2 separate regions of the Homo sapiens genome follow, and region 1 is linked to region 2. A link means that fine-mapping ties the variant in region 2 to the expression of a gene that starts in the linked region. Tissue or cell type: ovary. Region 2 holds a variant in brackets; the other region holds the start of a gene. All regions are shown on one strand. Distances are between the middles of the regions.

Region 1 (8,107 bases), 70 kb after region 2:
CATTCCAGCCTGGGGGGACAAGAGCAAAACTCCGTCTCAAAGAAATAAATAAATAAAAATAAAACTATAAAGTACCTTAAACACATTTGTCCTACTTTAATTTTTTGTTGTTGTTCTTGTCCTTTTAATAAATGCTATGTCCACTTTCTAGTCAGACTGAAAGTTCCACTAAATAATACGTTTTTTTATACCTGGAGAAGACGTTGATGTATTTTCTCAAATCCATTCCATGTTTTCACCACTACATTTGTCGCTAGAATATTTTTTCTTAGTGTTTATTTAATGTATAAATGGTGGTGTTCGATAAATTCTGACTCACCAATGTTTTGTTTGAAAAGCTATTTCCTATAGCTGTGATCAAGACCTCTAAATTTAACAATCACCTGGGCCCAGAAACTGGCCCCCGGTTTTGCCTGGGGTCTTGGCTCCTCACAAGTGGTTATGTTTAAGCAGCACTCCTAGCAATGGGAACTGTATTCCCGGAAGTTCTCTTTTATCAAATGACACACAAAGTCCAAATCCTTTCAAGGATTAAAGGATCAAAAAGGTTAAAAAGATCCTGGTAACAAAATGAGAAATCCTAATGTAAAGTGTAAACCTCCTAAAGTTTGACTCTTTATAAAGTCTGGGTTTCTTGATTCAGGCCCACAGCTTTCATCCATCCTCAGCAGGATCAATTTTTTCCTCAGGCAGGCCTGCCGTTCATTCAAACTTCAGACTTTTCCTTTATAAAGAAACACAGAATTTTTATGAAACCCAATTTCCTACCAGTGTATCTGCATTTACTTATATGTACCACCTAATTCCAATATACTATCCCTGTTAAGACTTTTCTTGTTTCTGAGCACTAACCAAGCTCTATAAATGTATGTCTCAGACGTTAATACCCCAGGGATCTCTTTATTTTCTCAGGGAGACACAGCCTCTGGTGCAAAATGAAGCCTCATTCCTCAGGGGATCTCTTATGGAAAAAGTCCTTTTTATATTCATGCCAGTTTGCTTTCTCTCCTCTATATTCATTAGGAATATTTTCAGGTTAAAGCTTTTAAGTCTACACAGGTGGTAGCATGGAGCAATGCTAATTCTTTTTTTTTTTTCTTTTTTGTAAGATAAAGGCAGAACTGCAGCCAACATTAAAAAACTGGTAGCAAAATTCACTTACTGACTTTGGTGCTTAAGAAACATGTCTCCAATCATTATCCCCTTAATTGGATAAGATAACTTTTAAAAATCTTTCAGATCCAATGTTATATCCAATCCTGTAAGTGAACAAGCTAAGAAATAAAATTGCTTGACAGGAAACAAGTATCCCATTTCACAATTTCTCTAAGTTAACTCTTTAAAATCCTTCAGATCCAATGTTAAGAACCCTGCAAGTAAGTGAACAGGCTAAGAAATAAAATTCCTTGACAGGAAACAAGTATCTCATTTCACCATTCCTATATGTTTCAGTAATGTATTTCAAAATCATCTGTCTTCTATTAATTATGACTCCAGTTGAGAGACTTTTTTTTTTCTTTTCAGCAACCCACAACTATCCTGAACTTTTCTGCTGGGATGGTCAAATAGCAAGATCCAAGAAAAGCAAAGTCTGGCCGGGCACTGTGGCTCACGCCCGTAATCCCAACACTTTGGGAGGCCAAGGCAGGAGGACAGCTTGAGCCCGGAGTGCAACACCAGCTTGGGCAACATAGTGAGACCTCGTTTCTATAAAAAATTTAAAAATGGGGTGGACCGCTTGAGACAGGGAGGTAGAGGCTGCAATGAGTTGTGATCACATCACTGCACTCCTGCCTGGACCACAGGAGTGAGACCTGACTCAAAAAAAAAAAAAAAGTATTTCCAGGGTATGTCTTCATAAATCACATCTGTGCTAATTTAAGTTATATCTGCTTCTGGAATCTAGAATTTTTATCATAGAAAATAAAGATTGCAGAATTAAAATACAGACTCCACAAAGCAATTTTAAAATCTGCAGCACTAGGCCGGCCAAGGTGGCTCATGCCCGTAATCCCAGCACTTTGGGAGGCTGAGGCGGGCGGATTACTTGAGGTCAGGAGTTTGAGATCAGCCTGACCAACAAGGTGAAACCTTGTTTCTACTAAAAATACAAAAATTAGCCAGGCATGGTGGTGTGCGCCTGTAGTCCTAGCTACTCGGGAGGCTGAGGCAGGAGAATAGCTTGAACCCAGGAGGCGGAGGTTGCAGTGAACCAAGATGGCGCCACTGCACTCCAGCCTGGGGTACAAGAGCAAAACTCCATCTCAAAAAAAAAGAAAGACCCAGGCCAGGTGTGGTGACTCATGCCTGTAATCCCAGCACTTTGGGAGGCTGAGGTGGGTGGATCACTTGAGGTGAGGAGTTTGAGACCAGCTTGGCCGACATGGCGAAACCCTGTCACTACTAAAAGAAATACAAAAATTAGCCAGGTGTGGTGGCGTGCACCTGTAATCCCAGTTACTTGGGAAGCTGAGGCAGGAGAATTGCTTGAACCTGGGAGACGGAGGTTGTAGTCAGCCAAGGCTGCACCCCTGCACTCCAGCCTGGACAACAGATCTAGACTCTGTCTCAAAAGAAAAAAAAAGAAAGGCCCACCACTAAATCAATTTGAGTTCAAAGATAAGTTAATCAGGAGAAAAATCAGACTAAACAGGTTAAGTAACTTTCTCAAAGTTATACAAAAAGCAAATACTGGTCTTCTGACTTTCAATTCACTGACCTCTGTCTGTAATATGCCTATTACTTTTACAAGTACTCTTCCATTTTTAATCAAAATCTTATTTCAAGGGACAAGAAATTACGTTAAGTGACAACAGAGGTATTTTTCAGTGAATGCTGACAGCTGTGAAAGTCTTAATCTTTCTTCCCCAATACCCTCCTATCATGAACAGCACATGACCACTCTTGCAACAGCAGGACTGAAGTTTTTCTTCCAAGTGGTATTGTTGCAACTCTCTGGGGTACTCTCCTTTATCATCTCCCTCCCTTTAAAAAAATACTGCCAATCCTTTCCTCCAACAACTCACAAAATAAGAGTTTTTCAAATCATTTTATCTTTAATAATCTTGTAGTAATTTAAAATATGAGAAAAAAAAGTCAAATGTGTTCCCTTTATGGGTGATGCCACCATGATTGCCTCACACAAGCATAATCAATCGCCACGAGAGACTGGATGCCAAAGAGTATGGCTGGCAAAAAGGCATCAGGGCTCACAGTCCGAAGAGTTTGGTTACGGAGTCTCCGAGGGGTAACAGGTGGCAGAAAAGACATCAGTTTAAGGGACCCTCAGAGGACAGGGCGCGGTTGCTGGGTCATGAGCACCTTGAAGCGTTTCTTGATGGTGATTCGGTGTCGAGAGTATTTGTCATCTGGGGAGAACCGAGCAGGATGGGCTGAGCAGGTCTGTTGTCCCATCGGGTCAAATTTCTGCTCCAGGAACACAGAATGTATGTCAGTACAGGAGTGATGAAATGGGGTGGGGCCAGCGCGAAAAAGGGCAAACATGAAAATAGAAGATGCAATGGTCAACTCAAAAAGTTGTACAAATAAATAGAGAAATATAAAATTTAAAAAGGCCGAGCGCGGTGGCTCACGCCTGTAATCCTGGCACTTTGGGAGGTCGAGGCGGGAGGATGGTTTGAGACCAGCCTGGGCAATATGGCGAAACCTCGTCTCTACAACAAACAAACAAACAAAACCAACCAACCAAACAAAAAACCCCAAAACCAAAAATTAGCCGGGTATGGTGGCGCACGCCTGTAGTCCCAACTACTCGGGAGGCTGAGGCAGAAGGATTGTTTGAGCCCAGGAGGCGGAGGTTGCAGTGAGCCGAGACCGCACCACCGCACTACAGCCTAGGCAACAAAGCGAGTCCCTGTCTTTAAAAAAAAAAAAAAAAAAAAAAAGGAAAAGTGAGTGCAATGGCGCTATCCCGGCTCACTGCAACCTCTGCCTCCCGGGTTTAAGCGATTCTCCTGTCTCAGCCTCCCGAGTAGCTGGGATAACAGGCGCACACCGCCATGCCCGGCTAATTTTTTGTATTTTAGTAGAAACGGAGTTTCACAGTGTTGCCCAGAATGGTCGCGAACTCCTGAGCTAAGGCAATCCACCCGCCTCGGCCTCCCAAAGTGCTAGGATTACAGGCGGGAGCCACTGCGCCCCGCCAGAATTTTTTCTTTTAATTAAAAAATGAGTCGCGCGGTCCCGGTTCTTCCCCACCTCGGTTCTGGACTTTCTGGTTCCCCGCACCCAGCTAGGTAACTCCACGTATGACCTCACCCACTCCTCCCATCTACATTTCTCGCCATGCCTATTTACACCCTGTTTTCTCTCCTCACCTTCAGCGTATAGACTCGATCTCCCTGCTCGTTGAGGTAATACTGGAGAAACATGATCGCTTATAAGCCAGCGGTCCCAATTCGGTCCACCGCTCAGTCTGCAGTGGTCCGCCCGACCGCGTCACGTGTTCGTCAATTTCCTTCCTGCATAACCGGAAGTCTCTCTCTCCTGGCACTCCGGAAAATGTAGTCAATTTTTGCCTTGTTTTCAGCTAGCCAGAAGGGGGCGCACGAGAGCAGGGCTTGGCTTGGGGCCCTACTTGCAACTTTGCAGGCTAAAACACGTGGAGTGTCCCTACTGTGTGCTAGGTACACGGCGTTAGAGGGGGGTAGGGATGGATGTGGATAGAATATTGACGTATAGAAGCCTGTCTTTGTCTCAAGATACACACCCATTTCAGGAGCAGTGAGTTTTCAATGCCTGAAGAAACAAGGGCTCCAGGATTCAGAGCCCCTTTACCCTAGGGAAGAAAGAAGAGGTTTTCTTCCCTCCCCTCTTTTACATCCAGTTCCCCTGCTCCATTTCAAAGCGTTGGCGGTAAAGAATGCATGTTGAGTATCAATATTCCGTAAAGCGAAAGAGCGTAAAGTTATTTTATGAAACTGGTGAAGCATGTTTCAGCGGTCGAACCAAGATTTAAAGTTAGGTCCCTACCGCAAATTCAGCGCTCTTTCTTATGGTGGTGAGTAGCTAATAATAACGTAATAAAGTGCACCTTCTAGGAGTTTTTACAATTTTTAAAAGAATATAGAAGTTCTCCTTATAAGACTCTCGTTTAAAGAAATGAAAATGAGAACCAAAATATCATTACAAAGATCATCGTTACGCCATTATTTACAATGACAAAAGCATTGGAATATATATTAACTGTGTAACCAGAAAAACCTGCACTTTTTTTTTTTTTTTTTTAAGAATATGGTTTGGCGGGGCGCGGTGGCTCACGCCTGTAATCCCAACACTGGGAGGCTGAGGCAGGCAGATCACAGGTCAAGGGTTCGAGACCAGCCTGGCCAATCTGGCGAAACCCCGTCTCTACTAAAAATACAGAAAAATTAGCCGGGCGTGGTGGTGGGCGCCTGTAGTCCCAGCTACTTCAGAGGCTGAGGCAGGAGAATCATTTGAGCCGGGGAGGCAGAGGTTGCAGCGAGCTGAGATAGCACCACTGCACTCCAGCCTGGGTCCGTCTTAAAGAAAAAAAAATATGGTTTGTGGCTGGGCGCGGTGGCTCACGCCTGTAATCCCAGCACTTTGGGAGGCTGAGACGGGTGGATCACAAGGTCAGGAGTTCGAGACCAGCCTGGCCAATATGGTGAAACCCCCAAAAATACAAAAATTAGCGGGGCGTGGTGGCGGGCACCTGTAGTCCCAGCTACTCGGGAGGCTGAGGCAGGAGAATCACTTGAACCCAGGAGGCGGAGGTTGCAGTGAGCCAAGATCACGCCACTGCACTCCAGCCTGGGCGACAGAGCGAGATCCTGTCTCAAAAAAAAAAAAAAAAAAAAAAGAATATGGTTTGTATTTACTTGTAGTTGCATAAAAAATCTCTGCAAGTATTCACAAGAAACAGATGATACTGGTTTCCTCTGGGATAGAGAACTTAGTTGCAGGAGAAAGGGGTAAGGGTTGGGAGGCAGACTTATTGCTATGTATTTTATTACGCAGTTTGATTTTTGAACCTTGCTAATGTATTTATTACCTGTTAAAAATTTTTTAAAGGCCGGGCACGGTGGCTCACGCCTAGTAATCCCAGCACTTTGGGAGGCTGAGGCGGGCGGATCATGAGGTCAGGAGATCGAGACTATCCTGGCTAACACAGTGAAACCCCGTCTCTACTAAAAATACAAAAAATTAGCCGGGCATGGTGGTGGGTGCCTGTAGTCCCAGCTACTCAGGAGGGTGAGGCAGGACAATGGCGTGAACCCGGAAGGCGGAGCTTGCAGTGAGCAGAGATCACGCCACTGCACTACAGCCTGGGTGACAGAGCGAGACTCTGTTTAAAAAAAAAAATTTAAATCTAAGTAGTTAATTTTGTTAGAAAGGAAAATGATGATTTTAGCCTTCAGGTCTTTAGAAAAGAGAAAAGATATCTCAGAGGAAGCAAGAAAGATGCCATGAACCCCAGGGAAGGCCTTTTGGGGGAAATCCACGTTTGGATGAAGCTGTGGCTGTAGAGGATGCTCTGGGAGTTACTGGCCTGAAATAGTCGCCAGGAACCTTAGCAGATAAATTTTATTTTTAAAGTTTAAACCAAAATAATTTAACAAAAAGAAGGACTTTCTACTCTTGAAATTTTAAACTGCATGGCAGCTTTTTTATTTAGTGAGGCTTTTCAGCAAAGGGTAAGGCGTCTGTGGAGTACAGAGCCTATGTTAGTAGATTGGACAGCTTTCCAAGGAAATGATGTGCACACAGCAATCGAGCACCTTGGATCATCTGACAATTCTAATTTTAAACTTTAGTTCCCTTGATCCTTACGTGTATAGACCAATGTACTCTGAATTTAGTTCAGAAAATATAGCCATCATTGAATTAAGTCAGGGGTCTACAGTCAACCTGCTGTTAATAGGAAGTCAGTTACAGAACTGGCTGGGATGGAAGGACACAAAATGAGATATGTTGGTGAAGAATCGAAGTGTAGTGAACCAAACGGTAAAACTGTAATGTGTTGGGAATCTGAGAAAAAGTTTACAAATAGCCCTAAAGAGGCAAACATCAATTGTGTTGCCAAACTGTAGTTTGAAGGGAATTCCTGGTTTTTTCATACTTACTAGAACCCTTCATGGAATATCTGTCCCCACCCTCACCCCACTTTTCCCTCTCCCCTCCCCCACAGCAGAATGCCTTGAGTTCCGTATTCTAGTTCTGTGTGATCTGATCTTTACCTTCCCTTCCTTGGATCCCTGTGCACCTACTGGAGCCAGGTTACTCTGGGTCCTGGACCTGACTGCCTCATTCTGGAGGCTTCCAGACAGCCACAGTTAGTGCCCAAACCTGAGAGGATGGCTTCAGATGGAGGTAAGTCTGCAGGTGGTGAGGAGGATTTCTGGTACCTGCTCATATCCTTTGAGACAAGCTCTCTGGGCTGACCTAAAGGAATGTGAGGTGCTACACCCCGTCAAAGGTATCACACTTGGGGAGGCTAGGGAAGGAGATTGTACCTTTAAGACTAGGGGCTGGGGAAGGAAGAGGACTTCCTTAAGGACAGATTAAGGTGTCTCTGAGGACACATGCTGAGTATAGAGAAAGGATGGCAATTAGCAACTTGATTCTCTTGAACAGGGGACACTTCCGCATGTGTTTTTGTGGTGGGAGAGAGGATCAGGGGTATGTGTCTTAGGACTGGCACAGAGAGGTTTCAAGGGGGAAGGCCCAAGTTCATCTGTCTTTTTTAGGCAACTGGAGCCTGTTCTAGGATTTTGCCATGCTTGAGCTTATGAGGGGAAGGGGATGTGGAGGATGGAGGATGGGAGGGTAAGGTGGGAAGGACCTTAGTGGGAAAAGATAATCTGTAGTTATCTGTTGCAGAGAAATGCCTTCCTGAAAACTAGGCTGGAATGTATTATAAACTGCCTCTGCTTGGGCCGGGTGCGGTGGCTCATGCCTGTAATCCCAGCACTTTAGGAGGTCGAGGCGGGTGGATTACCTGAGGTCAGGTTTTTGAGACCAGCCTGGCCAACATGGCGTAAACCCCGTATGTCCTAAAAATACAAAAATTAGCTGGATGTGGTGGTTCGTGCCTGTAATCCCAGCTACTTGCGGGGCTGAGGCA
Region 2 (8,107 bases):
GGGTTCAAGCAATTCTCCTACCTCAGCCTCCCGAGTAGCTGGAATTATAGGCGCCTGCCACCATGCCTGGCTAATTTTTTGTATTTTTAGTAGACATGGGGTTTTGCCATGTTGGCCAGGCTGGTCTTGAACTCCTGACCTCAGGTGATCCACCCACCTCAGCCTCCCAAACTGCTGGGATTACAGGTGTGAGCCACTGCGCCCAGACACTATTATGTTTCTTTTTTCTCATTTTACTATCTAAATAATGCTGACATTTTTGGGAAACTTACTGGTGTTTCACTGCATAATTCAAATGAAAACTGATAGGATAATTCTACTAAATATTTCAGATTTCTGTTTTTCATGGCATATTTTTTTTTTGTAAACAGAAAAAAGGTATACCAAAGGTCTTACTCTTTATATAAACACTTTACTGTTGTGATGTTATTACTTCTATAATGTTGCATTTGTCAATTACCACTTATACTATAATTTGGGCCCTAGATAAATCTCAAGTTACTCCTTTAGCTTCCTGATCTTGTCAAATGGCCTTTGCTAGTCTGAGTTAGGCAAGAGAGCAGTAGGTGTACCTAATTTCCCTTGGCACAGGTTTGGGTTTGTACTATGTGACTATGTGAATCTGAAAGGTTATCCCAAATGCTACATGTTTTTGATTTTATACTTTGTTTTGCCATTGATGTGTTAAGGAAACCATGTCATTTGTCCTGGAGAGTTTCTGATGGTCTGGGTTTTGATCATGGCATCCATGTGATGCTGTTTAACATGCTCTTTTTTTTTTTGTAATTCCTATAAATTGGTAGTTGAATCTAAAAGCTTAATCACATTCAGTACTTCTAGGAGGGTAGGGAGGAAAACTACTTCACAGTGGTATTATGAACTGCCAGGAGGTACATGTCATTGTCATCTGGTTGTCTTTCCTTTTGAGATATTAGCAATTGTTGATGAGTAATGCCTAGCTCCATTAATTTATGAGAGGTCACCAAATGGTAATATTCTCATTCTATTATTGTTCCTTCATTTATTAGCTAGAATACCTCTATAAAAAGAGACATTTCCTTTAATCTACTATTTGATTACCAAGTGGTTCAGTTAAAAACAGGACGAATAATTCTTTCCCTTTACTGACCAGTTCTCAGAATAATTGGTTCACTAAATACTCCAATGGTGACCAGTTAGTTGTGGGTTTTGTTTTGTTTTAGAGACAGGGTATCACTCTGTCGCGGAGTACAGTGGCACCATCACAGCTTACTGTAGCCTCCAGAGTAGCTAGGACTACAGGTGTGTGCCACCATGCCAGGCTAATTATTTTTTGCTTTTTTGTAGAGATGGGTTCTTGCAATGTTGCCCAGTCTGATCTTGAACCCCTGGCCTCAAGTAATCCTCCTACCTCCCTCCTCAGCCTCCTAAAGTGCTGGGACTACAGGCGTGTGCCATTGTGCCTGGCTCATTTTTTAAATTATCATTATGAACTCATAAACTTAAATACTGGGTTTTTACTGTATTAGCCCTTCCTCATGCTGCTATGAAGAAATACCCAAGACTGGGTAATTTATAAAGAAAAGAGGTTTGGCTGAGCACAATGGCTCACACCTCTAATCCCAGCACTTTGGGAGGACGAGACAGGCGGATCACTTGAGGCTTGGAGTTTGAGACTAGACTGGACAACATGGTGAAACCCCGTCTCCACTGAAAATACAAAAATTAGCCAGGTGTGATGGTGGGTCCCTGTAATCCCAGCCACTTGGGAGGCTGAGGAAGGAGAATCACTTGAACCTGGGAGATGGAGGTTGCAGTAAGCCGAGATCATGCCACTGTACTCCAGCCTGGGTGACAGAGCAAGATTCCATCTCAAAAAACAAAACAAAACAAAACAAAAAACAAAAAAAAAAAAAAGAGAGAGAGAAAAGAGGTTTAATTGACTCCAAGTTCAGCATGGCTAGGGAAGCCTCAGGAAACTTATAATCATGGTGGAAGGCCCCTCTTCACAGGGCAGCAGGAGAGAGAATGAGTGCAAGGAGGGGAAATGCGTGATGCTTATAAAACCATCAGATCTCATGAGACTCACTCACAATCATAAGAACATAGAGGAAACCGCCCCCATGATTGTTACCTCCCACAAAACGTGAGGATTATGGGAATTACAAGTCAAGATGAGTGGGGGGAGACACAGCCAAACCATATCAGGTATGTTTCAAATCAAATGCTTTTTCAACCTCTATTAAGATTATTATACAATATTTTTCTTTTAATTTGTTAACATAGTGAATTATATAAATTAACTTTCAATATTAAACCAACCATGGATTTCTAGCAGAAACTCAACTTGATGAGGGGATAATTTAAAAAAATATGTTGCCCGATTCAGATTGCAAATATTTCGTTCAGGATTGTAGATATGTTCCTAAGTAAGGTTGGCCTATACTTTTTTTTTTTTTTAATCTCATGTTGCCATTCTTAAGTTTTGGTTATCAAGGTTGCAAAAGCCTCAAAACTGAGGTAGTAGTTACTTGGTTTTCTATTCCTTATGAGAGACTGACTGCAGAAGACTCGAATTATTTTTCCTTGGATGCCTGATAAAACTTTTAATAATGCCAGGACCCATGGCTTGTTTGCTTGCTAGCTTTCTAAAAATTTTTTTAAGTGCAAAGCTACACACACACACACACACACACACACAGAAAAGTTCATAAATCACAGGTGTACAGCTTGATTATTACAACAGCAGTTTCACCCTCCCGTATATCTCCTCAGCCTGACCCTGAGTTTTGCAAGAGACCCGATGAGTCAGTGGGAACAGTAGATACATTAAAATAACTGTGCCCTGTTGACAGTAAAAACATTTAGAAGGACTGGAAAGGGCTTTTATATATCCAATTCAACAGCAAAGGTCTGAAAGATGTTATTACAAATTCAATTAAGCAGGCAAGGCAATTGAACCAGTTTTTCACCTACCAGGCCAAATTATCCTAAACAAGGTTTTTAGGGAGAGCTGGGAAGATTTTCTTTTTTTTTCTTTTTCTTTTTTTGTTTTTGTTTTTTTTGAGACAGAGTCTCACTCTGCCGCCCAGGCTAGAATGCAGTGGTGCGATCTTGGCTCACTGCAACCTCCACCTCCTGGTTCAAGCGATTCTCCTGCCTCAGCCTCCCAAGTAGCTGGGACTACAGGCACCCGCCACCATGCCCGGCCAATTTTTTTTAAGTAGACATGGGGTTTCACCATCTTGGCTAGGCTGGTCTCGAACTCCTGACCTTGCGATCCACTTGCTTTGGCCTCCCAAAGTGCTGGGATTACAGGCGTGGTGAACCACGGCGCCTGGTTGGAAGATTTTCATTCAACCTTATAATGCCTTTTCTGAGTAACTTATCAGATGGTTAGAAAATACAACAAAAAAAATCTTTCAGTCTTTTGCAAACTCATGAATTTCTTTTAATTAAACCAGACTTTTAAAGGTTTTGAGGCTACAGCTAAAACAAAGATACTTAAGACAGAAGACAGAAGAGGATAGTTCTTCAGAGCATGAGAAAAAAGGAAAATATGATCTGACTCCATGAATCTAGGAGAGAGAACTCAGGCTGGCAGGATGGACATACCTGATAATCTGGCCAGAAGACTGGATGAATCCTCAGGTTGGCTAAAAATTGAATGCAACTGTAGGCTGCCAAATGAGATTAATGTTTGAAGCAGTCTCTTTGCAAATACTATTAGAATTTTTTGGCTAATAATGACTAAGATAACTCTTCCTTCATAATCAAAGTTACTTATTTTTGCCTACAGTTCCCCAGGTATCCTTTACTGCAGGTGATTAGCTGGGAACAAAATCCAGCTTAGTAATACTAGAACTGTATCAACTTTTGACTGTCCATTTCACTAGCTAAGCTGCCTCCATTGTACATGTGTTCCTGATAATGAACTATTCTCAAACATCTCTGCCTGTCATGTATGTATCAGGGACAGAAACACTTTCATAGTTTAGAGGAAAGATGTTCTTTTCATGGTCTGGCAAAATTTTTCAATGAAAGTTTAATCGTTCCTGATCCAAATATAAAATTTTTATATACAGAAGACTAATTTTGAGCAATGTATAGAAACTATCCAATATAAAAGTATAAAAAAGTGGCCGGGAGTGGTGGCTCATGCCTGTAATCCCAGCACTTTGAGAGGCCACAGTGGGTGGGTCACCTGAGGTCAGTAGTTCGAGACCAGCCTGACCAATAGGGCGAAACCTTGACTCTACTAAAAATACAAAAATGAGCCAGGCGCTGTGGCGTGC[A/G]CCTGTAGTCCCAGCTACTCAGGAGGCTGAGGCCAGAGAACTGCTTGAATCTGAGAGGTGGAGGTTGCAGTGAGCCAAGATCGTGCCACCGCACTCCAGCCTGGGTGACAGATCAAGACTCCATCTCAAAAAAACCAAAAACCAAAAAAACAAAAAACCTCTAACATCACACGGTCAGGACCTTGGTGATCAGATTTGTATATTTATGTCAAACCATTTACTTAACAAATATATACTGAGTGCCTAGGATGTCAGGTACTGTTTCAGCATATAAACTCACTAAAGGAATGAGGGCTATGGTCTCATAAACTCTTCTCATTAACCCAAGGACTATCCTAAGTCTTTAATATAGAAAGAACGAAAAAGGAGTATCCCAGTTTCTTCAACTAATCCTCTGAAGTTTTTACTTTCCCTACTTTGGACTTTTTGATAGCTTATTTTTCCATAGCTGCTTTACACATATTTAAACAGCTAAAAGCTCAGCAGGGATCAAAATAAGCCTCAAATCAAAGCATACATAGACACACAAGTGTTAAATACCAAATAATATACTAAAAATTACTTAACCTCACTTACACTGAAGGAAGTATAAATAAAAAACTAGAGATGCCATTTTCACCTATTAGGTAAAGAAACTATTTTAAGATTAATAATACCTGTTTTTTTTTTTATTATAGAGAGTCAAGCATTACTCCATACTGGTGAGAGTTTAAGCTGATGTATCTTTTTAAACATGTACATATCTTTTGAGTAAGGAATTCCACTGTTAGGAATTTACCCTACAAATATACTGGCATTAAGACTGATATATCTATCTTATATACTGGATATAAGTATAAGATATTCATTGCAACACAACTTACAACAGTAACACACTTGGAAATACATGCTCATGAGTAGGAAACTGGCTGAATAAAATTATAGTGCAGGAGCACAATGAAATACTCTTCCATCACAAACAAAGGAATGAAGCAGAACTTTATGTACTAAGATGTCCAAGGTAAAATGTTAAGTAAAAAGAAGCAGTCTGTATAATAGAACAGTCCATTTACTATAACACCATTGATATAAAAAGGAAAAGATAGTCATATATAATACAAAAATTTATAATTAAAAATTTCTAGAAGAATTCCCAAGAAACTGTCAACAGCAAGTACTTTTAAGAGGTGGAAATGAGGTGGTAAGAAGAAGAGATACTTTTACTTTCTTTATATATGCCTTTTGTTTGAGCTGAATGCCTCATCAGGGTATGTTTCTTTTTACACTTTGAAAATTTATCAGTCCTGAGGTCTTGTGAAATTCCTGTCAAGGCCGGGTGCAGTGGCTCACACCTGTAATCCCAGCATTTTGGGAGGCAGAGGTGGGCGGATCACGAGGTCAGGAGATGGAGACCATCCTGGCCGACATGGTGAAACCCTGTCTGTACTAAAAATACAAAAATTAGCTGGGTGTGGTGGCGGGCGCCTGTAGTCCCAGCTACTTGGGAGGCTGAGGCAGGAGAATGGCATGAACCTGGGAGGCGGAGCTTGCAGTGAGTGGAGATCGCACCACTGCACTCCAGCCTGGTGACAGAGCGAGACACTGTCTCAAAAAAAAAAAGAGAAATTCTTGTCAAATTATGCACTTACTTTAAAGAAGTGGTACCCAGAGGAAGTAAATTCATTTCCATAATTTGTTTCATAGATAAGGAACTGGAACACCAAATTCTAAGGACTGCTTAAGGACATACTGTTTATGAAGTACTTTCAATAATTAAAAAGGGGATCAAAAGGCCAAGAAAAGTAATAAAAAGGGAAAATTAGCTGCAAAGTCAGATATTACAAAGCTATTATAATATCTTCTTTTCCAAATTATCTTTAAAAAATTCTAGTTCTTAGATTTTTTTTAACCATAAACCATGCAAAATTACTTTTTAATTTAACTGAGTCTTAGTAATCAATTATAGAAGTAGTTTCCTAAAACTTGGCAAGTTGGGAATAGAAACAGCAGGAAAAAAGTTGTTGGGTGGGAAGTAGAAAAGGAGGGGATAGAAAATAGAATCAGAGAAGGGAGTAATGTCTGTTAGGATAAATGAGTTAAGGGTGACTTTGGATAAAGTCAATCCCCACAGTAATACTATACCTAACAGTTGGCTGTGTTCCCCTGTGATGGAGTTCTGACTCAGGTCTGAAAAACAAACAATTGAAAAGAAAAGAAAAAAATGAATGATCAAAACAAATAATTTCTTTAAAATCAGCAACAAAAGTCAACCAAGGAAATAAGCAAAAAAATTTAAAAACTTATGAAATATTAATGTGAAGATAATAAAAAATAGAATGAACTAGTGTAAAGAATGATCACATAGCTCAAAAAGTTAAACATAATCACCATCAGCAATTCTACTCCTAATTATACTTCCAAAATAATTGAAAACAGGGACTCAAACAGATACTTTACCACAAAGTTTATGACAAAATAATTCACAATAGCCAAAAGGTTACCAGGTATACTTCTACAGATGAAGGAATCAACAAAATGTAATATACACATACAATGGAAAATTATTCAGCTATAAAAATGAATGGAATTCTGATACATGTGACAACATGGATGAACCTTGAAAACATTATGCTAAGGAAAACAAACCAGACACAAAAAGATAAATATTATATGACTCAATTTATATAAAATGTTGAGAAAGGGCAAATTTATGGAGATGGAAAGCAGATTAGAGGTTACCAGGGGCTGGGTGGAGTAGGGTATGGAATGTTATTGCTTAAAGAGTACAGCGTTTCTGTTTGGGGTGATGAGAAATTCTGGAAACAGATAGTGGTAATGGGTGTACAACACTGTAAATGTAATTAATGCCACTGAGTTGTACACTTAAACATGGTTAAAATGGTAACTTCTGTATTGTATATATTTTGCCACAATAAAAAGTAAATTAAAAAAATAATAATCACACAAATTTGACCAAGCAGTCGTTTCATAAAGTAGAAGGATGATTCAGGATTGTGATATGAATTATATTTTTAATGACGAAGGAACATTTTAATGACAAAAAATACTTATGGCTATAGCAGCTCAAAGTCAAGACATAAATAAAGCACTTATTACTATTAGCAGATATATTCTAGTAGTTTGACTTTAAGATACACTGACTACATTGGCTTTCATAAATATCAATTTCTTTAGTAATCTGAAATAAAATTCGTGGCAATAAGCCAAGTTCCTAATGCAAGAGATATTGACAATCATCATTTAACAGTCAACCACTTACTTATTTTAAAGGTTTGAAAAGCACTAAGAGCTAAAAACAGAAAAGACTAAGCTCCACTTTCCTCAAAGACTAAATCTCTTGAGACGCTGATGATTCTGGCTTCCTTGAATGTGCCTGGGGTAATAAAAATAATTTTAGACCAGGGTTTATGTGAACAATGGGAAAAAAAGTCACATCTTTATTTTCACTAACCTCTAACTGAAGTTAAGGATTTTCTACAGCTATGATGTATGCAACAGATTACATAAAAGTACCTTTGATTTTGTCTAACAATAAATCTGAGACATTTTTATATCACATTATTGTTTTAGACAAAATCCATAGTCCACATATGTTTTACATATCATTTAATTAACACTTTAAGCATCCCAGACAGAAAGAAACAATCAGAATACTTAACAAATTCCAGTTTCTGATGTATATTGGAGTATACACTATATATTTTAATTAAGGAAGTCAGGTAGAAATCTGATTTCTACCACAGAAGTTTTAAATGCTATTTGAACATTTAACAATTTATTTTCAGGGGATTTTTTTCCTTAATTTGCTTTGAAAAAGGAAAATTTGAAATGTT

The links. PIP is the estimated chance that this variant, and not a neighbour inherited with it, causes the effect.
Region 1: it holds the start of NOP10, and the variant in region 2 is fine-mapped to the expression of NOP10 in ovary (GTEx, PIP 0.98).

What each region holds. Positions count from the first base shown.
Region 1 is chr15:34,338,683-34,346,789 of GRCh38, forward strand. NOP10 (NOP10 ribonucleoprotein) reads right to left here and starts at 4,454. Exons shown (of 2, transcript NM_018648.4): 1 at 4,338-4,454; 2 at 3,037-3,426. The coding sequence starts at 4,391. The coding sequence ends at 3,286. It overlaps NUTM1 (NUT midline carcinoma family member 1), which reads left to right and starts at 4,633. Exons shown (of 8, transcript NM_001284292.2): 1 at 4,633-5,020; 2 at 7,260-7,353. The coding sequence starts at 5,015. RefSeq lists silencers at 4,197-4,306, 4,387-4,486.
Region 2 is chr15:34,268,950-34,277,056 of GRCh38, forward strand. SLC12A6 (solute carrier family 12 member 6) reads right to left here. Exons shown (of 26, transcript NM_001365088.1): 3 at 6,396-6,440. Among named protein-coding and RNA genes, the nearest start is that of EMC4, 48 kb to the left of the region's middle. The variant A/G (reference allele first, on the strand shown) is at 4,275.